Homo sapiens: one gene and its partners. The protein of the gene in region 2 purifies or fractionates together with the protein of the main gene of each other region. This does not show direct contact. Each region holds a gene or a part of one and is shown on either strand. Other genes may lie near its edges.

What was found.
Region 1: the proteins of ARCN1 (region 2) and COPE purify together in Homo sapiens (affinity purification with mass spectrometry; 4 studies listed by BioGRID and IntAct, with this or other methods). This does not show direct contact.
Region 3: the proteins of ARCN1 (region 2) and COPZ1 fractionate together in Homo sapiens (co-fractionation; 5 studies listed by BioGRID and IntAct, with this or other methods). This does not show direct contact.

What each region holds. Positions count from the first base shown.
Region 1 is NC_000019.10:18,901,984-18,910,131, forward strand, and holds part of COPE (coatomer subunit epsilon), read right to left. Parts: intron 5,130-8,148; coding exon 4,977-5,129; intron 3,953-4,976; coding exon of another isoform or gene 3,884-3,952; intron 3,647-3,883; coding exon 3,593-3,646; intron 2,870-3,592; coding exon 2,788-2,869; intron 1,441-2,787; coding exon 1,285-1,440; intron 1-1,284. UniProt on the Homo sapiens protein: The coatomer is a cytosolic protein complex that binds to dilysine motifs and reversibly associates with Golgi non-clathrin-coated vesicles, which further mediate biosynthetic protein transport from the ER, via the Golgi up to the trans Golgi network.
Region 2 is NC_000011.10:118,595,843-118,603,990, forward strand, and holds the end of ARCN1 (coatomer subunit delta), read left to right. Parts: intron 1-1,864; coding exon 1,865-2,069; intron 2,070-4,782; coding exon 4,783-4,872; 3' UTR 4,873-7,191; downstream 7,192-8,148. UniProt on the Homo sapiens protein: Component of the coatomer, a cytosolic protein complex that binds to dilysine motifs and reversibly associates with Golgi non-clathrin-coated vesicles, which further mediate biosynthetic protein transport from the ER, via the Golgi up to the trans Golgi network.
Region 3 is NC_000012.12:54,341,513-54,349,660, reverse strand, and holds part of COPZ1 (coatomer subunit zeta-1), read right to left. Parts: intron 7,456-8,148; coding exon 7,374-7,455; intron 6,437-7,373; coding exon 6,345-6,436; intron 4,202-6,344; coding exon 4,146-4,201; intron 1,895-4,145; coding exon 1,817-1,894; intron 1,662-1,816; coding exon 1,610-1,661; intron 42-1,609; coding exon 3-41; intron 1-2. UniProt on the Homo sapiens protein: The coatomer is a cytosolic protein complex that binds to dilysine motifs and reversibly associates with Golgi non-clathrin-coated vesicles, which further mediate biosynthetic protein transport from the ER, via the Golgi up to the trans Golgi network.

The DNA of each region.
Region 1 (8,148 bases), on a different chromosome or scaffold from region 2:
TCCTGGCTAACACAGCAAAACCCCATCTCTACTAAAAATACAAAAAATTAGCTGGGCATGGTGGTGGGCGCCTGTAGTCCCAGCTACTCGGGAGGCTGAGGCAGGAGAATGGCATGAACCCAGGAGGCAGAGCTTGCAGTGAGCCGAGATCACACCACTGCACTCCAGCCTGGGCGACAGAGCAAGACTCCATCTCAAAAAAAAAAAAAAAAAAAATCCACCAAGCATGGTGGCTCACACCTATAATCCTAATGCTTTGGGAGGCTGAGGTGGGACGATCACTTGAGGCCAGGAGTTCGAGACCAACCTGGGCAACACAGCAAGAACAACCCCGTCTTTACAAAATATATATATATTTTTAATTTAACATAACATAAACTCTTCATAAAGACTGCAGATGGCCAGGCGTGGTGGCTCACGCCTATAATCCCAGCACTTTGGGAGGCTGAGGCGGGTGGATCACCTGAGGTCAGGAGTTTGAGACCAGCCTGACCAACATGGCAAAACCCCGTCTCTACTAAAAATACAAAAATTAGCCAGGCGTGGTGGCAGCCGCCTGTAATCCCAGCTACTTGGGAGGCTGAGGCAAAAGAATCACTTGAACCCAGGAGGCGGAGGTTGCATTGAGCTGAGATCACACCACTGCACTGCAGCCTGGGTGACAGAGTGAGACTCCATCTCAAAAAAAAAAAAAAAGAAGAAAGGAAAGGAAGGAAAGGAAGGAAAGGAAGGAAAGGAAAGGAAGGAAAGGAAGGAAAGGAAGGAAAGGAAGGAAGGAAGGAAGGGAAAGAAGGAAGGAAGGAAGGAAGGAAGGAAGGAAGGAAGGAAGGAAGGAAGGAAGGAAGAAAAGACTGCAGACATCAGGCAGGAGATGACTGCAGCCACCCTGGGCAGGCAGCGCTCTCTCAACGAAGAGCTCCTGTCCACAGCACACTCTCCCCTACATAAGTACGGGGAGTGTCTCTCCAATACTGAGTATGTACTCAGGTGAGGGGTCCCACTTGCAGGTCCCGGGCCAGGCAGCTGAGGTGACAACAAGGACGGCTCAGACCACTGAGGCCCAGGCTGCCCAGATGCCCCATTTCTGTGAGGCCGGAATCTGGATTTCTTTGCAGGTGAGATCCCTGCTTTGTGGATCTCGCTGCTGACTGGGCCTTAGAAGCCCTGTGGGGCCACACGCACACCCAGGGGGTCTCTGCTACACTTGTTTCTGTCCGCCCTGACCCCACCCTCTGGCCGCCTGGCCTTCCCTCCGTCCCCACTCTGGGACAGGCTTGTGCCTACCTTGTCTAGCGCCTCCTGCAGCAGGCCCTCAGCGGCCTCCCAGCGGCCCTGGGCCATGTGGCAGGCCGCCTGCCCATTGAGCAGCAGCAGGGTGGGCGAGCACTTGTCAGCCATCTCCTGGAAGATGTAGTAGGCATCCTGCAGCTTCTCACCACCCTGCAGGGAGGGTCCCGCATCATTGCCTGTGCCCCTGCTGCCCGGCCCTTCCCCCGCCAGCCCCCTCCCCTAGCGGGGGGGACTCCAGCACTGCACAGAGACGAATCTGGTGTGCCCGGTTCAAGGCACAGCCACTCCGCCATGGGGACTACCCGTAACTTGTACTCTGCTGATGGGGCCTAAAGACTCGTGGCCGCCTCCTGCCCCACCTCCCACCCAGCTCCCGGAGTGCTGAGTACACAGAGGTGGAATCTGGGGCTTCCAAGGCCTCAGTGCACAGGTGGCTGGCTCAGGGTCTGAGTGGGGACCACTGGGTCACTGAGCACGTCAGAGGAGGAGGAGTCAGCTCTGTGACCAGCAGCCCTGACCTGTCCACTTGCTCAGAACAGCAGAACACTTGCAGGGGGAGCCTGAGGCCAAGGCAGGCAGTGAAAACAGCCCAAACTACCCGATAGGTCTGCCGGGGCCTGTCCTACCATACTAGACGGTCACTGGAAGTCTGTCTGGGTGAGGCTTCAGCCCCGTGGCGGGCAGGGACGGGGAGCACATTTTTTTTTCTTTCTCAGAGTTTCACTCTTGTTGCTCAGGCAGGAGTGCACTGGCGCGATCTTGGCTCACCGCAACCTCCACCTCCCGGGTTCAAGCGATTCTCCTGCCTCAGCCTCCTGAGTAGCTGGGTTTACAGGTGCATGGCACCAAGCCCAGCTAATTTTGTATTTTTGGTAAAGATGGGGTTTCTCCATGTTGGTCAGGCTGGTCTAGAACTCCCAACCTCACATGATCCACCCGCCTCGGCCTCCCGAAGTGCTGGGATTACAGGCGTGAGCCACTGCGACCAGCCAGGAAGCACATTTTAATAGGCCCACACAAAAGAGTGGCTCAGAAGGGGGCCAAGTCCCAGAAACCAGGAGAGGGGCTGTTGCCGGGCGGAGGTGCCCAGGCCTGGGAGCTGAGGACATCTCCACCGCTGCTATGGGAACACTGAACTCCGTCCCTGGCTGGCGACCAGGACCCTGGAGAGCAAAGCTGAGTCGCAGAAAACCCCAGGAAGCCCTGAGGGGAGGAGGGCCTGCCAGGCCAACCCAGACCCTCGAGTACCCCTGTGCCTCAGGCTCAGGAACCCGTCCCCGCCCCCACCATCTCTTCGCTCTGGCTCTGGCCAAGTCGCTTGGCTGTGAGAAGCCCGGAATGGAGTCAAGGCTGAGTTATGCCAGGCTGGCAGGGGCCACGGCCTGATCCTGGAGCCCCACTGGAGTGGCCAGCAGCCTACGCACAGGTGGGGGTGCCCACAGACCCTGCTCAGCCAGGTGCCCGCAATGCCCACCCACCTCATGGCCTAGGGCTCACCGTGGCCAGGCTGACCCAGGCAGTGGCGAGCTGGGTGAGGGTGGCATCCTCGTCCAGGTCCTGCATTCTCTTCAGCTCCTTCCTGGGGCGGGGACAGATGACAGAGGGGCTGAGTGGCCGAGGGCCCTGGCCTGGCCATCCCTGCCTTGTCCCCACTTGGGGCCCACCGGAGCCTGGGGATGGCCCCTGCTTTGTGCTCCACTGCATGCTCATACCCCACGACTAAGTGCCCGAGCCACCCTGCCCGTCTGACCACGTGCAGGCCCTGGGAAGGTGGGACTGGGGCCAGCTATGGCCCCCCAGGGTGGCCACCACAAGGTAGAGCTCAGGAGAGACTCACTCCATGGAGGATGGAACGCAGGGAAGGGCAACGGAACTACAGTGTGAACAACTCTGAGGCAAGGGCTTTGGAAACGGCAGCAGGGGAGTCCTGGACCCCCAGCCATGGCCTCCGACCTGGTGATGCCACGTGCAGGCCCCGCCAGCCCCACGGCACAGTTACAAGCTGGTCAAGTAACATGTTGCTCCAGGCACAACCTCCACTCTCCCTCCATGAAGCCCACCCTCACCCTGTGGGAGAGGCCTGCCACCCACTGCATAGAGAGAAACTGAGGCACAGAGAGCCATGGCCCTCCTCCCTGGCAACATACTGCAGGGAAGGGCTGAACGACAGCAAGCCACCCCCATGGAAAGGAAAGACAACAAGAGTAATGACAGCACCACAGACGCTCTGGGCTGTGACGCTCTGGGCTGTGACGCTCTGGGCTGTGGCTCAGTGCGGGTGGAGAGGGGCAGGAGGGCTCACCGGGCGAGGTCCAGGCGGTCCAGCTTCAGCAGGATCTGCACTGTCATGGCTGTGCTGCAGGACAGGGCGAGGGGGCGGTCAGCGGGTCGCCACAGACACATTGCATGGCCGCTCCACACCCAGGGCTCACTGTGTGTGTCTGGGATGTTCCTAAGTCCTGTGCTTAGGACCACCAGCCCCGCCCAGCAGAGGAGGACACCCTCACTCCCACATTTCACCGCTCAGCTTCCTCAGGCCCAGGAGCTCTGGGGGAGGTACCCAGGATGGGGTTTCAGGCCCCGGCCCACTCACCGCCCATCTGGAGAAGCAGCCTCCATGGGCTGTGCTTCCAGATGGAGGGCCCTGCCCGGACTCGACACCCTGGAGGCATCAACACTCAGGAACAAGGCCCTAGAGGAGGGCCACGCACCCGCCCCTGCACCTGCACCTGCAGCAGAGCCCTGGGGCCACCCACTCTCTGCAGGCCCCCTCGTCCCCTCATCCCTCTCAGCCCCAGGTGGCTGTGACCACGAATTACTCGTGAGGCCTCTTGTTCTTGTTTTCCTGCCAACAGGAGCCAGCACCTGGACCAGCACCGAGTCGGCCGGCTCGCCGACAGTGTGACATCCCTATTTATTTTCTTTTTTGTGTGTGAGTCAGGGTCTGGCTCTGCCACCCAGGCTGGAGTGCAGTGGCACCATCACGGCTCACTGCAGCCTCCACCTCCCAGACTCAAGGGATACTCCTGCTTCCGCCTCCCAAGTAGCTGGAAACATAGGTGCATGTCACCATGCCTGGCTCGCCCTGCAATTCTAAGCCCTCTGTGGATGGAGGTGGGATGGGAGCAGATCCACAGCGACCATGAAATGCCCAGCTTGCAACTCACAGTGGAAGGCAGGCACTGCAGGGACAGCTCACGGGGAAGAACTGACACACTTTCTGTGACCAGTGCCCTGGACATGGCCCGGAGTCACATCCTAGGGTGGAGGGGGGCACCAACCTTGCAGGGCTTCAGCACCCCAACCCCAGAGGGCCCTGGAGGAGGGCCGGTATGGGGGGCCCGGGGAGGCCTGAGAGACTGGGCCCAGGGCCGAGACACAGAAGGCTTCGTGGGGGGTGGGGACACAGAAACCGAGCAGAGACAAAGCCGCTTTCTGCTCTGCCCTTGGGAACAGAGGGTTGCAGCCTGGGCACCGTGTCCTTGGATCTGCAGCCTGGTGCGCAGATGGGAGTGCCTCCCACACTGGGCAGGGGAGCTGGAGCCTGGACAGCAGGCCAGGGCCTCATTTCAGCACCACCTTTCTCTGCTCCCATGACGACAGCCAGCGAGGCCGTGCGCAGCCTGGAGATGTGGCAGGGGGCACTTGCCTCCCTGGGCTGGCCCCAGAGCAGGGAGGCCACTCACCACTCCAGGCTGTCCCCCTGGTGCAGCGCACGCAGGGCGGCATCCGGGTTCTGGTCGTGGAGATAGATGGAGGCGGCCATGAGCAGGAAGGTGGTGTTGGTCACGTCCACGCTCCTGCTCATCTCTCGGTCCAGCTCGGCCACGATGCTGTCCCTGCAAGACAGAGATGCTCACGACCCACAGCTGGGGTGGCCTCTGTGGGACCTCAGAGGGTCCCCTTCCTTGGAAGCAGACAGGTCCAGAGAGGGTGAGCCAGGCCCTGGGGGTGCAGAGCAGCAGCAGGCCGAGCATCGAGCTGTCCCGACATGTCCTCCCTCCGTTCCTATGAAGCACCTCTCATGCTGGGCCAGGCAAGGACCCGAGGCCGGGAGATGTGGGGTGGGGCGCTCCAAGGGGACATGAGGAGGCACCGTCAGTCTCACACCAACCTCACCCGCCTTCCTGAGGAGGCTGGTGGGCCCAGCTGGGACTCCTGACCATAACCCATCAACCCTGTGGGCTTCAAGGCCACGTCTTCTAGCAGGAGGTCGGCCTGGGTGCCGAGGGGCCGTGCAGAAGGATGGGAGCCCTGGGGCACCCCCACTGCCAGGGCAGCTGCCCTCAGTCCCTGAGAGCCCAGGGTGCTGGCTGCACCCTGAAGATGGCCAGTGTGCTGCGGGCCAGGGCCAGGCTTGAGCCCAGGCAAGGCTGAGGACCGGCTCAGCTCCGAGGGCACAGGTCACCCATGCCTCCATGTCCCTAACTGGACCCAGACCCTCCATTCCCCATGGCTATTGAGCAGCTAAAAAGAGAAGGCAGGTGAGGGGGCCACCCTAGACCAAAGCTGGTGTTCTTCTGGGTTCAAACGTGGCTCTGTGACCCCGTAAGCATCCACGCGCATCTGGGGGCTGTCTGCCCAGGGCCCGTGTCTGAGGTGTCACTGAGGGCATGGCATGTCTGATACCAACCAGGCTCCACTGAGGGCTCGCCACAGTGCCAGGTCCAACAGACAAGTGACTTCAGGTCTGAGTCTGTTTCCCCGTGCTGAGGGACCATGTTACAGGGATCATGCAGGGGAGGAGCAAGGAGCTCCCAAGACCATCTTACAAAGCTTCCTGAGGCTCCAGCACACAAGGGTGTATAAACACTGCCAGTTGTCGTAGCGTTGGTACTGTAATGTTGTCATCCTAAGGTGTTACAATTACCAATGGGGCCGGGTACTGTGGCTCACACCTGTAACCCCAGCGCTTTGGGAGGCCAAGGCAGGATCGCTTAAGCCCAGGAGTTCAAGACCACCCTGGGCAACATAGTAGGACCCCTTTTTCTACAAAAAAGTAAGAAAGTCAGCTGGGCCTGGTGGCGCCTGTAGTCCCAACTACTTGGGAGGCTGAGGCAGGAGGATGGCTTCAGCCCGGGAGGTTGAAGCTGCGGTGAGCTGTGGTCACACCTCTGCACTCCAGCCTGGGTGACAGAGGGAGACCATCTCAAAAACAAGCAACAGCAACAAAATCAATTACTGGGCGGATCGCTTGAGCCCAGGAGTTTGAGACCAGCCTGGGCAACATGGCAAAACCCCATCTCTCTTTTTTTTTTTTTGAGACGGAGTCTCGCACTTTCGCCCAGGCTGGAGTGCAGTGGTGCGATCTTGGCTCACTGCAAGCTCCGCCTCCCGGGTTCATGCCATTCTCCCGCCTCAGCCTCCCGAGTAGCTGGGACTACAGGCACCCGCCACCATGCCCGGCTAATTTTTTTTGTATTTTTAGTAGAGATGGGGTTTCACGTGTTAGCCAGGATGGTCTCCATCTCCTGACCTCGTGATCCGCCCGCCTCGGCCTCCCAAAGTGCTGGGATTACAGGTGTGAGCCACTGCGCCCGGCCAGGCAAAACCCCATCTCTAAAAAATATACAAATTAGCCAGGCATGGTGATGCGTGCCTGTAGTCCCAGCTATTCGGGAGGCTGAGGTGGGATGATCACTTGAGCCTGGGAGATCAAGGCTGCAGTAAGCCAAGATTGTGCCACTGTATGCCAGGCTGAACGACAGAGCAAGACCGTATCTCAAGAAAACAAAATCAAAACCAAAACCAATTACTAATGGATGCTCCTTGTCCCCGGGGCGTCCTGCCAATGAGGTCGCGGCTGTGCAGCCAGATGAACGGACCACAAGCCCCTGCCTGGACCGCCTGCTCTCCGGGGCTGCTTTTCTGTGATGCTCACAGCAGCTGCTGCTCCTGGGGGACCCAGGGTTCCCTGCCTTCACTCCAGCTGGTGAAGTAAGTGCAGGGTGGGAGAAACAGTGGCCCTGGGAGGTCACCTGTCTCAATGTCCTGGAGCTGCTGTGGCAAAGCACCACAGCCCGGGCAGTTAAGGACAACAGGGATTCGTTCCTCACAGCTCTGGAGGCCGTAAGTCTGAAGTCAAGGTGGCGGCAGGGCTGGCTCCAGCTGGAGGCTGGAGGGCAAGGCCGTCCCAGGCCTCTCTCCCAGCTCTGGTGGCTGCTGGCCACTCGTGGTGCTCCTTGGCTAGCAGACATGTCACTCCAGTCTGTTGTCACATGGGCTTAACTCTGTGGGCCTCTTTCCTTTTTTTTTTTTTTTTTTTAAGACAGTCTCCCGCTGTCACCCAGGCTGGAGTGCACTAGTGCGATCTTGGCTCACTGCAACCTCTGCCTGCCAGGTTCAAGCGATTCTCCTGCCTCAGCCTCCCAAGTAGCTGGAATCACAGACATCACATCCTGTTAATTCTGTATTTTTAATAGAAATGGGGTTTCACCACGTTGGCCAGGCTGGTCTTGAAAACTCCTGACCTCAGGTGATCTGCCCACCTCGTCCTCCCAAAGTGCTGGGATTACAAGTATGAGCCACTGCACCCAGCCCTCCTTTTATCTCTTAAAAGGACACAAGTCCTTGGCTTTGGGGCCCACCCTAAATCCAGCATGTCTTCATCTCCTTATCTCTTAATCTGATCGGCAAAGACCCTTTTTCCAAATGATATCATATTCACAAGCATGTGGGATAGGATATGGACGTACCTTTTGGGGGACACCATTCACCCCACCATGCTGCCTCTGCACAGGAGTCAGCTCCCAGGAACCCCAGGTTTCTTTGAGTGAAGGGAGGCGGTAGTTGGGACACTGCCTCCGTGGGCCAAGGAAGAGCAGGATCACAGCAGTCTCCCCATGCCAGACCCTCACT
Region 2 (8,148 bases):
GGATCACGAGGTCAGGAGATCGAGACCATCTTGGCTAACACAGTGAAACCCCGTCTCTACTAAAAATACAAAAAATTAGCTGGGCCTGGTGGCGGGCGCCTGTAGTTCCAGCTACTCCGGAGGCTGAGGCAGGAGAATGGTGTGAAGCCGGGAGGCGGAGCTTGCAGTGAGCTGAGATCGCGCCACTGCACTCCAGCCTGGGTGACAGAGCGAGATTCCGTCTCAAAAAAAAAAAAAAGTACTAATTTAATTCATAGTTTTCTTCCCTTTTTGATAATTCAAGCCTTTACATTATCAGGTCTGGTTTTAGTCATTCTTGTTTCCAATTTTAAAAATATACTTTATTACCAGTATCCCCTTTAATGGGTAACCATCTTATCCTCTACAGTATGGTTATTGCTTCAGAACAATAGATGGCTGCCTTGAACTGTTGTAGGACTTGGGTGTTGGTGACAGGTAGAGTTTTGTTTGTCAAGATTTAGTTTACTAGACTATTTATAGAATGCTACAATTTTGAGGCCTGTCTACCCTATAATTGTGGTTGTGGTGGTTTCCTGTATTCTAGTTCAGTTTTGCAATGGTCTCCAGAAGAGACCCTTACACAACATTTTACTCCCGTTGTCTAGAACTGATCAAATTAGAAGAGATCAGAATCAGAATTAGAGCAAGGGCACAGAGAAGGAACATAAAAGAACCAGGACCCTGAAATTGATAGGGAAGAGTTAATAGTCTTATGCCACCCTTAAAGTTTACTTTGTCTCCCTTATTTACCCTATCCCTAATATAAACATTGAGTGTCACTGGTGAATTAAAAGCTGGTAAATTTAGAATGTGTAGGAGTAGGTGACACTGCCTGTCAGCCGTGTGTAGGGGTGCAGAGTAAATCTTAACTAGCCCTGCTTCTCTCGCAGATTAAGGACAACTACGGATCTGTTTCTCCCATCATGTTTCCATTTTGCCCCAGGGGTAATTGTGCTTTCACTTATCAAATAAAAGTCCATTTACTGGATTGTAAATCAAATAAACCCATTGGTGTCAACTTCAATAAGTTTGAAACATTCTGAAATCTTTAAAAACAAATTCTCGGCCGGGTGCGGTGGCTCATGCCTGTAATCTCAGCACTTTGGGAGGCCGAGGCAAGTGGATCACGGGGTCAGGAGATGAGACCATCCTGGCCCGCATGGTGAAACCCCGCCTCTACTAAAAATACAAAAATTAGCTGGGCGTGGCGGCACACGCCTGTAGTCCCAGCAACTTGGGAGGCTGAGGCAGGAGAATCGCTTGAACTGGGGAGGCGGAGGTTGCAGTGAGCTGAGATCACGCCACTGTACTCCAGCCTGGCGACAGAGCAAGACTCTGTCTCAAAAAACAAATGAACAAGAAAACAAATTCTCTCAAAGGCCTCCATTCATCTCCACTATTGATGTTTAGAGTTTTCCCCCACTATTATCAATCTGCTTGTTTCCCCATTGTCTCCTATAAAGAGTGCTACATTATGTTAAAATTCCTTATTTATAGGGCAGCAACCTATTGGTGCAGGGTTTTTGGAAACATAGCCATCTTAACACATCTGTTGGTCGCAGTCCCCAGATCTAGTCCTTAAGTTGGAGCAGCCCATAGGCATATCTGCCAAATACCTATTTTTGCATATTAACTATATCTACAGAGGGAATTGAGTGAAACTCTTAGCCCAAGGTGCTAGGACTTCATCGTTTGATCCTTGAAGTTATTAGCCTTTTTTTCCCCTGAAATTGTAGTCCTAGAAGGCAAAATTTGGGGATCATATATCAAATTTGGGGTTGGTTTTCCGTGGTGGAGTTCTAGCTCTGAACAGCTACCTTGACCAGAATGTTTCTCACAACAGGTCTGGTGTCGGCGCGCCTGTTATCGGTGAGATCGATGGGGAGTATCGACATGACAGTCGACGAAATACCCTGGAGTGGTGCCTGCCTGTGATTGATGCCAAAAATAAGAGTGGCAGCCTGGAGTTTAGCATTGCTGGGCAGCCCAATGACTTCTTCCCTGTTCAAGTTTCCTTTGTCTCCAAGAAAAATTACTGTAACATACAGGTACTCCATTTTAGTTGAGAACATATATAGGGAAAGTGGTAGGACAGTAGGAACACGTATAGGATGCCAGACAGGTAGCATGGCTTTTTGTGGTCAGATAAAGCTCAGAAAAAAACTGATGTCTCCTACAGGAATTCCCTTTCTAATTCATTGTATGATCGTGGTCAAATTCTTTTATTGCTTTACCTCAGTTTTCCTCTCTAGATCAGACAAAGTAAAGAAATGGAATGTTAATACAGATAAAAGTACTTGTGGATTATGCAAGATTCATAAACACTTAGTTGCCTGTTTTTTTTTAACCTTATATATTTTAAAGTCGATTTGCCAAAACACCCCAACACATGGTTTTTTTAAGGCCTTGCTGTCACTTGATTTATACCCAAAGAATGAAATTGTTTTATTTAGAAGACAAAATTACTACAAAAAAAAAATCCATTCTATTACAAATGGAAATTATTTGAGGGTTATTTATGTCACAGCTCCCTTTATTAGTACAAATAATCATGAGCCAATTCTGTTGCAAACTCTGTCCTTTAGGTAGGCAAAGCAATGGAGATGTGTGAGCTGTTCCTTCGGATTTTTTTTTTTTTTTTTTTTTTTGAGATGGAGTTTTGCTCTTTTCACCCAGGCTGGAGTGCAATGGCGCGCTGTCAGCTCACCGCAACCTCCGCCTCCCAGGTTCAAACAATTCTCTTGCCTCAGCCTCCCAAGTAGCTGGAAATACAGGAATGCGCCACCATGCCCTGCTAATTTTTGTATATTTGGTAGAGACGGGGTTTCTCCATGTTGGTCAGGCTGGTCTTGAACTCCCGACCTCAGGTGATCTACCCGCCTCAGCCTCCCAAAGTGATGGGATTACAAGTGTGAGCCACAGTGCCCAATGGATTTTTTTCCTTTTTTTCTGAGACGGAGTCTTGCTCTGTTGCCCAGGCTGGAGTGCAGTGACATGATCTCGGCCCACTGCAACCTCTGCCTCCCGGGTTCAAGCAATTCTGTCTCAGCCTCCCCAGTAGCTGAGATTACATGCGCCTGCCACCATGCCTGGCTAATTTTTGTATTTTTAGTAGAGACAGGGTTTCACCATATCGGTCAGGCTGGTCTCGAAATCCTGACCTGAGGTGATCCGCCCACCTCAGCCTCCCAAAGTGCTGAGATTACAGGCGTGAACTACCACGCCTGGCGGATTTTTTTTTTTTTTAAGACGGAGTTTCACTCTTGTTGCCCAGGCTGGAGTGCAATGGCGTGATGTTGGTTCACTGCAACCTCTGCCTCCCAGGTTCAAGCGATTCTCCTGCCTCATCCTCCTGAGTAGCTGGGACTACCGGCATGCGCCACCACGCCTGTCTGATTTTTGTATTTTTAGTAAAGACGGTATTTCACCATGTTGGCCAGGCTGGTCTCAAACTCTTGACCTCGTGATCCAGCCACCTCGGCCTCCCAAAGTGCTAGGATTACAGGCGCGAGTCACCGCGCTCGGCCCGGATCATTATTTTTTAACTCATCATTCTTCCAGTTTTTATTGTTGTTGTTGTTTTGAGACGGAGTCTTGCTCTGTCACCAAGGCTGGAGTGCAGTGCGATCTCAGCTCACTGCAGCCTCTGCCTCCCAGGTTCAAGTGATTCTCCTGCCTCAGCCTCCCAAGTAGCTGGGACTACAGGCGTGTACTGCCACACCCAGCTAATTTTTTTTTGTATTTTTAGTAGAGATGGGGTTTCACCATGTTGGCCAGGCTGGTCTCTAACTCCTGACCTCAGATGATCCGCCCACCTCGGCTTCCCAAAGTGCTGGGATTACAGGAGTGAGCTTCCACGTCTGGCTGTTCTTCCAGTTTTTTAATTTGCATTACTAGGACCCAGTTTATATTATTAATATTCCCCTCTTTTTGACTTGCTTGTTGTTCTGGCCCTACCTTAGCTTCCCATATGGTCTCCGTCTCCCCTGTAAATGCTTAGAAAATTGCAGCTTCCTCCCTTGAATGATTCCAAAGAGCAGTTCTCTCTCCCTATCCTGTTAGTGACATAACCCCATCAGTGTTGGAAGCAACTGTATTGAACTCAAGACATTAGATAGAAATGGGTAAATTTTCCTATTGGGGCTATTCAAAGATTAGGACATTATAATTGCTCTCCCAAAACTTCATTAGAAAATACGAATCAGTGGTTCAAGTGTTGTATTGGTGCCGTTATAGGTACCATTGTTACATGTAATTAATTAAGCTGGACATTTATTTATTTAAAAAGGAAAAACCTCATTGGACCAGCCATGCCTAAAAAATAAGTATGATAGAGCAGCTTACTGGGACTTTTAACACGAGACTTTGAGAGCAGAGCAAATGAATAATGTGAAGAGCTAGAACGTTGCCTTTTGGGTCAGAATGTTAATATATCATCCTGATAGAATGTCTATGAATTTCATAGGTTATACAGGGCAGGGCTGGGCTGTGGCCACTCATTTTGGAGCTTTTACTTAATACTACGGAACATCTCGTCCCAACAGTTGTCTTTTCTCCATCTAGAAGAAAAGCAGCTTAATCATTTTGGTGGGGAAGAGTGATGCTGTGACTTTCAGTTGTGAATTGAACATTTTTCTAGTATTTTACAGTTACTTTTAATACCGCTTTTAGGGAAATTGATATGTTCTGTAATGAGAATGTAGTCAACATGATGGAGACTCAAACCTCCTGCTTTACCTTACTCTTTGTTTATTTTCCTAGGTTACCAAAGTGACCCAGGTAGATGGAAACAGCCCCGTCAGGTTTTCCACAGAGACCACTTTCCTAGTGGATAAGTATGAAATTCTGTAATACCAAGAAGAGGGAGCTGAAAAGGAAAATTTTCAGATTAATAAAGAAGACGCCAATGATGGCTGAAGAGTTTTTCCCAGATTTACAAGCCACTGGAGACCCCTTTTTTCTGATACAATGCACGATTCTCTGCGCGCAAGGACCCTCGACTCACCCCCATGTTTCAGTGTCACAGAGACATTCTTTGATAAGGAAATGGCACAAACATAAAGGGAAAGGCTGCTAATTTTCTTTGGCAGATTGTATTGGCCAGCAGGAAAGCAAGCTCTCCAGAGAATGCCCCCAGTTAAATACCTCCTCTACCTTTACCTAAGTTGCTCCTTTATTTTTATTTTATTATTATTATTATTATTATTATTATTTTTTGAGATGGAGTCTCACTTTGTAACCCAGGCTGGAATGCAATGGCATGATCTCAGCTCACTGCAACCTCCGCCTCCTGGGTTCAAGCAAGTCTCCTGCCTCAGCCTCCGAGTAGCTGGGACTACAGGTGCACGCCACCACGCCTGGCTAATTTTTTGTATTTTAGTAGAGACGGGGTTTCACCGTGTTGCCCAGGCTGGTCGCGAACTCCTGAGCTCAGGCAATCCGCCCACCTCAGCCTCCCAAAGTGTTGGGATTACAGGCATGAGCCACCATGCCCAGCTGCTCCTTTATTTTAATCCCTAAATATAATCCCTAAATATAGTTATATTTCATACTTAGTTTGTTTTTAAAAAGTTTTCTCTGTAGAAAATTTTAATCATTCATACCCTTTACCTTTAGGTTTTTCTTTCTATACATTCAGTCAGGCACTGGGATCATCTGTTTACAGGCATTATATTTATTTGGCACTCCTGGAACAAGTATATCTAACCCATTCTTGATTTTTGGACTATTCAGGTGAACTATTTGAGGGGTATGGGGTCTAGAAGTTAAAAGATACGCATGTCTTCTGTTCTTTTCCCGTATCAATTCATTCCTTCATCTCTTTGCCAAGTTGTTTTCCTTTCAGGGCCTGTCCTTCCAGTTTAGAACAGTACCATGAATCCCACTTGTGTCAATATTAAAGATAGCTGAGAAGCACCTTTCAAATGGCACAGTCCCTCTTCAAGATGTCTAAAAGAATGGTTATGTCTGTCCAGTTAGGGATTTCACATCCACATGTAATCATGTCTGCTGCTGTTGCTACCCAAATTTTCATTTCTCCACATTTTGGGTACTTAAGCTAAAACGTAATGGCCACAGTCTGTAATCCATTCACATTCCTCAGTTTCACCACCTCCCTCTTCCAGACTGCACTCTCTGTCATCAGTCCCCTCCTTTCTAACAGAAATGGGGTTATGATTTTGAAGGCTGTGGGTTCAGGGAGTCTTTGCCAATCCTGTTGGCCCTAAACTATCAAGGAGGCTCCATTTCACCATTTGATTTTTTGCATTTCAGGAGGCAACTGATTGTTTCGATATGTACATATTACTCACGTATACCCCATTTCCTTCCAGTCAGCCCAACATTTTCCACCAGTCTGTCCCCATCTCTGAAATCCTTCCTTCTCTTTCCCCCTAAGTCTTTTGAGTGTCATCATGTACTGGTGGTTTCTCGGTTCCATCTCATCCATTTCCTTTTCAATGGAGACTACAGCGTCAGCCAGCTCAGCCTTGGCTTTTAACTCAATATTCCAGTCCATAGGGGTGGTTAAAAGTTGCTGCAAGGCTGCAGGCACTGGCAGTGGGAAGAGGCAGACGACTAGATGACTTCTGCACTTTTAGCTGGTTGAAAAGTACCACTCCCACTCTGAACATCTGGCCGTCCCTGCAAAGAGTGTACTGTGCTTGAAGCAGAGCACTCACACATAAATGGCTGTGTGTGGAATTGCTTGCCAAAGAAGTTTCTAGCCTTTCCCTTTCCCCTAACTGCATCAGGGAAGAATTCTTATCTCTAGCTTGGTTTCCACATGAGGTTTTTCTGAGAAGGGCTTGGGACAAGAAGTCTGTCATGTTAGTTAAGCAGGCAAGAAATCCTACTAATCCAGTTTTGTTTGAAAGTTGTTTGTCCGTATGATTTTTTAAAAGTCAAGTTTAATTTCAAAAAACCTTTTTTTTCTGAGATTACTTTTGGGGTAATATTTAAAATGAGAGACATTTTGTAACCCTGTAAAATACATAGGGAATATAACATTCCAGTGTATACAAAGAAGGCAAATTCTTTAATCAAATAAAGCGCATTATAAAATGAGATGTTTATTGGATTATTGACTCACTTTGGTGTCTGCTTGTTGATTCAGGATGCTGTAATGGGACCTAACATTAAAAATTAATGACATGTTTTTTTTAAGAGAAAGTAATCTGTGAGAGTATTCATTGCCTTTTTCCATCTTATATGTATTGTGCTTCCTTGCGTATTTTTCTACATTTGATACATGCACTCCTGACAGTGTAGCTTTTGAATTTGATGCTACTTCTGGCCTTTTTGGGGATTGGAGTCTTAATTTTGTCAGACGGCAGTTGGAGAGTCAAAAAAGTCAGGCTTCATCTTTAATCTTGGAGTCTTGGAGTCTTCTCTTCCCCATTAGACCGTGATGAGAAGTGATCCAGGGATGAGGGATAATGGGAACAATTTTTGGGAACTGTTGATAATTCCCTCAGATAAACCTGCTTACTTTTTTTTTTTGAGATGGAGTCTCGCTTAGCTGCCCAGGTTGGAGTGTGGTGGTGCGATCTCAGCTCGCTGCAACCACGGTCGCCCAGCTTCAAGCGATTCTCCTGCCTCAGCCTCCAGAGTAGCTGGGATTACAGTCACCCGCCATCATGCCGGGCTAATTTTTTTTGTATTTTCGTAGAGACGGTTTCACCATGTTGGTCAGGCTGGTCTTGAACTCCTGGTCTCAGATGATTCGCCCACCTCTGCCTCCCAAAGTGCTGGATTACAGGCGTGAGCCACCGCGCCCAGCCTTTTTTTTTTTTTTTTTTGAGACAGTCACCAGGCTGCAGTGCAGTGACATGATTTCGGCTCACCACAACCTCCACCTCCAGGGTTCAAGTGATTCTCCTGCCTCAGCCTCCTGAGTAGCTGGGATTACAGGCATTCCACACCACCACCCCCGGCTAATTTTTGTATTTTTAGTAGAGACGGTTTCACCATGTTGGTCAGACTGGTCTCAAACTCCTGACCTCGTGATCCGCCCGCCTCAGCCTCCCAAAGTGCTGGGATTATAGGCCTGAGCCACCGCGCTCCGCCAGAGCTGCTTACTTTCTTATGCTTTTTTAAAATTTAACTTGGAAAAACTATTGGGTGTCA
Region 3 (8,148 bases), on a different chromosome or scaffold from region 2:
ACCTGAGACACGGTCTGCTCCGTAAGGGGGACATCTTCACCCTATGGCACAGAGATACAAGCATTTAGTGTGGGAGAAAGCTGGAGTAAGACCTGATTGGAGTCTGGTATTAGAGAAGAAAAAAGTGATCCTTTAAACTGAAACAAAGGGCAGATGCACTGAACTTCTCAGTCCCTTCTAGGGACTAGTACAGCTACAATTTTACTTGGCCAGAGGGACTATGAACAAAAAAGGGTCATTTCATCCAGCTTCCATTTTAAGGCAGGAGGACTTCTTAAAAGATTTAACTCCATTCAGAGTAACCAGCAGGTTATCTGATCCTCAACTCCCTTAACGTGGGGGTGGAGGACCTGATTCCCTAGTCAGAAAAGGCCTTTTCTGAATATCAGTATCACTAGGGAAAGGATGAGGGGGAGCCAGGAGTGGTTTAATGGATCCCGCAAAGCCTGATGGGTAACGACAGCATGTTAATTTGAAGAAATAAACTGCTGCAACAGCAGCCTAAGAAGACAAAGCGGGGAGTTGATGGGGGGGACCCTCTCTCTTGCCACACAGAGACATATGTTAGAGGAGAAGATTAAACTATGCAAATGGAGCCCACAGCAGTTAAGAGAGATTTCCCATTACCAAGCACTGTCAGCCTTCACTCTGTGGAGGTCAGAGCCAGGACATTCTGTGAATGGGGAGATTTGCTTTGCTCAGACATCTTTGCACCCGTATAATTTGTTGGTGGGCTCTCTCTGCATCCACCATTATCTCCTCAGCTGACCTGGGGCCTTCTATGGTTAACTCAGAGGCCCCTTTCTGATATCACCAGCACCAAAGAGGACTGAGGTTCTGGCAAATAAGTACTTCCTAATGGAGAGGTACCATCCTCAGTTATGTAACACTTTATTATTATTATTTTATTTATTTATTTTTTTTGAGACAGAGTCTCACTCTGTCGCCCAGGCTGGAGTGCAGTGGTGCAATCTCGGCTCACTGCAACCTCCACCTCCCGGGCTCAAGCAATTCTCCTGCCTTAGCCTCCTGAGTAGCTGGGATCACAGGCACGCACCACCATGCCCAGCTAATTTTTGTGTCTTTAGTAGAGACAGGGTTTCACCATGTTGGTCAGGCTGGTCTCGAACTCCTGACCTTGTGATCCGCCAGCCTCGGCTTCCCAAAGTGCTGGGATTACAGGTGTGAGCCACCACGCTCAGTCCTATGTAACACTTTAAAAGACAAAACAGACACTCCTCTGCCTCAGATGACTGGATCCATCTCCAAGAAGGGAATAAGCCAACTTCAAGTTGCTTTATAATTTCAAAACCATAAATATTAAAGTTTATTTTATCATTTATTAAATAAGTATGTATTAAATGTCCACTTTGTGCAAAGACTGTATGAGATGTTAGGCACCATATTAGGGGTAGAAATAAGTTATTTCTGCTTCTTTCTTTGGGACAATAAGAAGAGAAGGGAAGAGAAAGGCTGAATGTATTTGAAAGAAAAAGAGAAGGTTGTATGTATCCTATGAGCCCCAACTACTGGACACATCCAGCAGGTCTGGCTCTGGAGGGTGTTTGTGAATAGATGCGGGGATGCAAAGAAACACATTCTTGCTTACCCTTAATGCCACCCGGTGTACCACCTGCTGGGGATCACTCTCTAGGATCACCCTGCAAAAACAAAGAAGAGATCATTGTTCACTCTGTCCCGAAGGCCCAACTCACTGTCGGGGAACAGGACCTCTGGCCACTGAGCCTGCTTGACTTAGGACAGGGGCAGTTATCCCGCCACCTCACCCAAGATCAAGGCAGGTCAGAGAACTTACCCTCCATCTACAATTTCATCCACAGCCAAGAACAGCCCCTCCATGTTCTCCAGCAGTGCTCGCTTTTCTACATTTTTCCTGAGTCCCCAAGAGAAGAGAAGAGAATAACCAACTTGTATGTGAAAGAAATCCTAGGACCTTGTCTCAATTGAGGAACCTAAACTAGACCAATAAACATCTCCACCAACCACACAAAGAAGTAAATAAGGTGAAGAACTTTTTAGCTAGTTCACTCAAAACCCCTTTCTACTCGTTTGCTGAATAAGGAATGTATGGAAAGAGATTCAAATAACACAGTCAATTTCTGACTATTCAGGGGTTGATTATCCACGCTATTATTTCTTTCCTACCTGCCATGATGCTGCTCATAACATTGCTCATAAACACTGACATCAGTGGGTGGAAAAAAACAATATAAACAGAGCTAAGACTCAGTCTGGAGGTGGCCGGAGGTGAGAGGGGTTCAATGCAAACCTTATTTGTACTCAAGCTCTGACAAACCTCCTGAGACATTCTCTGTTCCCTCTTCTCCCTATCCCTTACCAGCTCTGCTCAGGCCCTGAAAAGAAGCCCAAAGAGGGGGCAGGGTCTGCATACACCAGCCTCAGATCCGTTGGTTGGTGCATGTGGCCTGTCACATCTGTCAGTTTGAGTCTTTCACTAGATTACCCGAATGAATTACTATTCATTCACCTGGATAAGAAATAAATCATCCCCTTCCTGAGGAAATCTGAGCCATTCACCCTGCTGATTTTGCAGGGCTGAGAGTGCCTGCTGTTCTGGTCTGGATGGCTGTCTGTACTGGGTTCACTTGGGAGCTGCTGGGGGAATGAAGTTCAGAGCCCTGGATGTTTTCAGGAAAAGTAACTTATATCTCTTCTATTACCCATCTACACGGGTAACAGAGAACAGAGGGCTAGTGGGAAGGTGGAAAGGGAGGAGAGGGTAAATGGCAGAAGCTTCCTGTTTTTTGTTTTGTTTTGTTTTTTGAGACAGGGTCTTGCTATGTCACCTAGGCTGGAGTGCAGTAGCATGATCACAGCTCACTGCAGCCTCAACCTCCTGGGCTCAAGCAATCTTCCTACCTCAGCCTCCCAAGTAGCTGAGACTACAGGTATGCACCACCACACCTGGCTAATTTTTTTATTTTTTGCAGAGACAGGGTCTCACTGTGTTGCCCAAGCTTGTCTTGAACTCGACTCATGCAGTCCTCCTGCCTGGGTGCTTCCTGTTCTACAGAAGGGAAAAAACAAGGACTAGAAGTCAAAAAAAAACTGGTCTAAGTGGCTCATGCCTATAATCCCAGCACTTTGGGAGGCCAAGGTAGGTGGATCATTTGAGGTCAGGAGTTCAAGACCAGCCTGGCCAACATGGTAAAACCCTGTCTCCACTAAAAATACAAAAATTAGCCAGGCGTGGTGGCACGTGCCTATAATTGCAGCTACTCTACTCGGGAGGCTGAGGCAGGAGAATCGCTTGAACCTGGGAGGCAGAGGTTGCAGTGAGCCGAGATCACGCCACTGCACTCCAGCCTGGGTGACAGAGTGAGACTCCATCTCAAAAAAAAAAAAAAAGAAAAAAAAATTGGGAGTGTTGCTTCCATTCCTGAAGTACTGAATGACATTTCATCTGGGACACTTCCTTATGCTTGGCCTTTCCCTACTTCTAATGTCAAGAATGAAGCCCAGGAAAGCACCTTGAGGATGCTCAGATCTGACAGGACCACAGGGGATTACAAGAGTAAACACAGAGGTAAAGATTCGGCTCCCTCCCAGTCCCCTTACTTAGTAAGAGAATTATTCTATGGGAGGGACATACTCTCCATCCAGTCCTCCCCAGTAGCATGAATTACTGTGAATTAATAAACCCAACTTTTTTTTTTTTTTTTGAGACAGAGTCTCACTCTGTCGCCAAGGCTGGAGTGCAGTGGCGCGATCTCGGCTCACTGCAAGCTCCGCCTCCCAGGTTCATGCCATTCGCCTGCCTCAGCCTCCCAAGCACCTGGGACTACAGGCGCCCGCTACCATGCCCGGCTAATTTTTTGTATTTTTAGTGGAGACAGGGTTTCCCCATGTTAACCAGGATGGTCTCAATCTCCTGACCTCATGATCCGCCCGCCTTGGCCTCCCAAAGTACTGGGATTACGAACGTGAGCCACTGAGCCCGGCAAAACCCAACTTCTAAAACTAAATCAACTCCCTGGAGCCTTTGCCAATCCCCTACAATCCCTGGGCCTGAAGAATGGTTACTTTATCTCCCAAAAAGAAATCAACAATGCCCTGCTCTTTCCATCATAACTTGAGGGGAAAAAAAAGAATGTCCTGCTCACCTCAGCATCTGGCTCAATGAGTCGAAGAGACAGTTCAGAACAGCCATAAGCATCAGCTGTTGGGAAACAGAGGAGGCAGAAGGATAAGGTTCAAGGCCCTGAAAGCTGCTACCTAAAAACAAAACCTCCTAATTCATTAAACATCAAAAGACACAGGCTTTCACAAAGGACCAAAAACATAAAGTGGAAGTGAGAGCACAACAGGAAAAGGATCTGTGATTTCTCACAGAAATAAATTCTGCTACATGATTCCACAATTCAACATCTTTTAGCCAAAAGTTTAAACAGAACTTCCCTGTCACAGTCCTCTACAATGTCTTCACCAACTGTATATGTGTTACCTGATGTCTTAGGTAGAGAAATTACTAACCAAGCAATAGCTGAGGTCAGAGGAAGGCTTCAGAGTTAGTGTAAAAAGCATGGACTTTAATTGGCTGGGCACAGTGGGTCACACCTGTAACGTCTAGACCCTGTCTAGACTCTGACTCTATCCCAGCACTTTCGGAGGCTGCAGCAGGCCGATTGCTTGAGCTCAGGAGTTGAGACCAGCCTGGGCAACATGGCAAAACCCTGTCTACAAACAATACAAAAAAAAATTAGCCAGGCATGGTGGTGGGCACCTGCAGTCCCAGCTACTTGGGAGGCTAAGGTGGTAGAATCACTTGAGCCTGGGAGCCAGAGGTTGCAGTGAGCCAAGATCGCACCACTGCAGTCCAGCCTGGGAGACAGAACAAGACCCTGTCTCAAATTTTTTTTTTTTTTTTGAGAGTCTGGCTCTGTCACCCAGGCTGGAGTGCAATGGCGCAATCTCAGCTCACTGCAACCTCCACCTCCCAGGTTCAAGCAATTCTCTTGCCTCAGCCTCCCAAGTAGCTGGGATTACAGGCGCCCACCACCACGCCCAGCTAATTTTTGTTGTTGTTGTTGTTTGTTTGTTTGAGACGGAGTCTCGCTCTGTTGCCCAGGCTGGAATGCAGTGGTATGATCTCGGCTCACTGCAACCTCCGCCTCCCAGGTTCATGCCATTCTCCTGCCTCAACCTCCCGAGTAGCTGGGACTACAGGTGCCCGCACCACGCCCAGCTAATTTTTTGCATTTTTAGTAGACATGGGGTTTCACTGTGTTAGCCAGGATGGTCTCAATCTCCTGACTTCGTGATCCGCCTGCCTCGGCCTCCCAAAGTGCTGGGATTACAGGTGTGAGCCACCATGCCTGGCCTGTATTTTTAGTAGAGATGGGATTTCGCCATGTTGGCCAGCCTGGTCGCGAACTCCTGACCTCAAGTGATCCGCCCACCTTGGCCTCCCAAAGTGCTGGGATTACAGGTGTGAGCCACCACGTTCGGCCTATGTCTCAAAATTTTTTAAAAAGCATGGACTTTAAGTCAGACAGATATGGGTTGGAATCCAAGCTGAGCCATTTTCTACATGTGTGACCCTGAGAAAGTTACTAGGTTGAACCACATCAGATAACTGCCACTTTTGTACTTTTCTCAATGGTCACATACAAGTAATTTCATATAGTTCTTCATGGTTTGGTTTCCTCATTTGTAAAACAAAGGCACCAATGCCTACAACTCATAGAAGTGCTATGAGGTTTAAATAACAATATACTTTACAAAGCACTTATACCAATAATAAGAGCTCAGTAAGAGTTGACTTTCTCAAACTTTCACTTTTGCCTCAAATTATCTGGGGGCTTATTTTTATTTATCTATTCTCCTAGAAGTTGCTATCTGAGGCAAACAGCTTTTCCTGCATATAGGAAGCAGGTTAGGACTATACCCAAGGTCTTCTCCAGTGATCCATTCAGAATGTATGGTTTCAACATGACCCAGGTTGTTAGCTAATTGGCTCAAACTCAGTCAGGTATGGACCCTTCATAGAAGAAGCAAGTATCCCCCTGCAGTCTTGACCATACCTCAGAAATCCATCTTAAAAAACACTACTCAGGGAAAGGTATTAAAACATATATGATGTTTCCTAATGGATGCAAAAGATTAATCTAGGAAAACTTCCTTTCTAGGCGATTCATTTGCCGGGCCATGTTTGTGAGGCTGGTGGGATCTCTGACAACTTCATTAGCTTGGTCAGAAGCCAGAGGAACACGGCTCTATTAGGGCCCCAAACCAGTGGCTATGTACTGCCTGTGGTTTAGAAAGTAGGATCAGAAATAGCAAAGAGGGGTGGGGATTCTCACCTCATTTTCATAGGAGCTGCCAATCACATAGAAATAGAGATCTATACTGCTTTTGTATACCACTGTCAGGCCTTCCAAGAGGGCAATTTCACCTGGTGGGGGAAAAAAAGTAAAAATAGTGGGTGGCTTGAGATAAGGAAGTAGGAAAGAAGGAGTTACCAGCCAGGCGCAGTGGCTCATGCCTGTAATCCCAGCACCTTGGGAAGCCGAGCCTGGCGGATCACCTAAGGTCAGGAGTTCAAGACCAGCCTGGCCAACACAGTGAAACCCCGTCTCTACTAAAAATACAAAAATTAGCCGGGCGTGGTGGTGTGCACCTGTAATCCCTGCTACTCAGGAGGGTGAGATGGGAGAACCACTTGAACCTGGGAGGCGGAGGTTGCAGGGAGCCGAGATCTCGCCACTGTACTCCAGCCTGGGTGACAGAGAGAGACTCTGTCTCAAAAAAAAAAAAAAAAAAAAAGAAGGCGTTACCATGAATTCCTAGTATCCAGCTCTTTTGGGCTAAGGTGAGGCCGCCTGTAATGACTTCCAAAGCCAGAAGATGATCTGCACTTTTTGGGTGGTGGCAGGAGAAGAGAAGTATGAACTTGGGGGAGTCTAAATGTATCTTCTGTAACCACCATCCTCTGTTCCTGCCCACTATACCTATTTCCCTACTTGTATATGAGACAGGATACTAGTCGATCCTTCGGAGGTGAAAATGCAGAGCGGTCACCTTTACAGACTTCCATTTACCTGCCCTAATGGATGCGGTACAATAAGCAGAGCTGCAATTAAATTTGTCAAGTGAGGCTCATAAATCCAGGGACTAGACAGGTAGCTAACAGCCAACCTTCCAGCATGGTATTCCCGCGTGAGGTACACTCACCTCCCCATTACATTCTGAAGAGTTTATTATACAAGGGGAAGAAGGAAAAAAAAAGAAAAAGGCAGAGTCATTTCATCCTTTCTCTGCAGCCCTGTTACCACCCCCTTTCCACCATGGTTCCCCCCAGCACGGGTAGTAGTGAAAGGAAAATGACCTACTGTCAGTCCGATGGGTCTTGTTGAAAATGTTCTTCTCAAAGGCCTTTTGCTCCTTGACACTGGGGTAGGTGTCGTCATAGTACTGGTCAGAGGGAAAGAAGACAGGGTTGGGTCACTAGAGCTGGAAGCCAGAATGATTAGTGACTATGTTTTGCCCTGGGATCTTGGATTTCTCTCCTTCAAGGCATGGGGCAAGGGAGAAATACTGACATGGAAAAGGAAGGATTGTAGAGGCAGAGAATGGGCAGTGAGTAATCCAAGAAAAATAAATAAAAGACCCTGCCATAAGCAACCCCACCTCACATTTCCAAGACTGTCTGAAGGCAGAAGCCTACCAGCCCTACAGTGAGGCTCTGCAGCTGTCTGCAATCTAGACCTCTCCTAAAACCATTCTCATCAAGTGTTTCCTAGGAGCTACCCCATGTCAGGAAGCAGTGCCAGAGAACACAAAAAACACTAGAAGCACAGAACACTTCCATAGACCCTCACTCACTGTATGAAGCTGAGGAATGGGGAAAGGCTACAAAAACCTCCTCCAAAGAAAGGCAAACCCTGCCCTATGATCTATCTTAGCTTTCTTTTCTGCAAGCTGAAAGAAGCATCCAGCATACCACTGAGCCCATTCCCAGGCTCTCCCTGGCAAAGGGGGCGGAGATGCAGGCTGCTAAATCGCTAGCTCTTTAGGGGCTAATCCGTCGCAGTCAGCTGAAGACCCATGACAGGTCTGGCATTTAGTAACTGGATAACTGTTTCAAAAGGTGTCCTGCATAGTTAC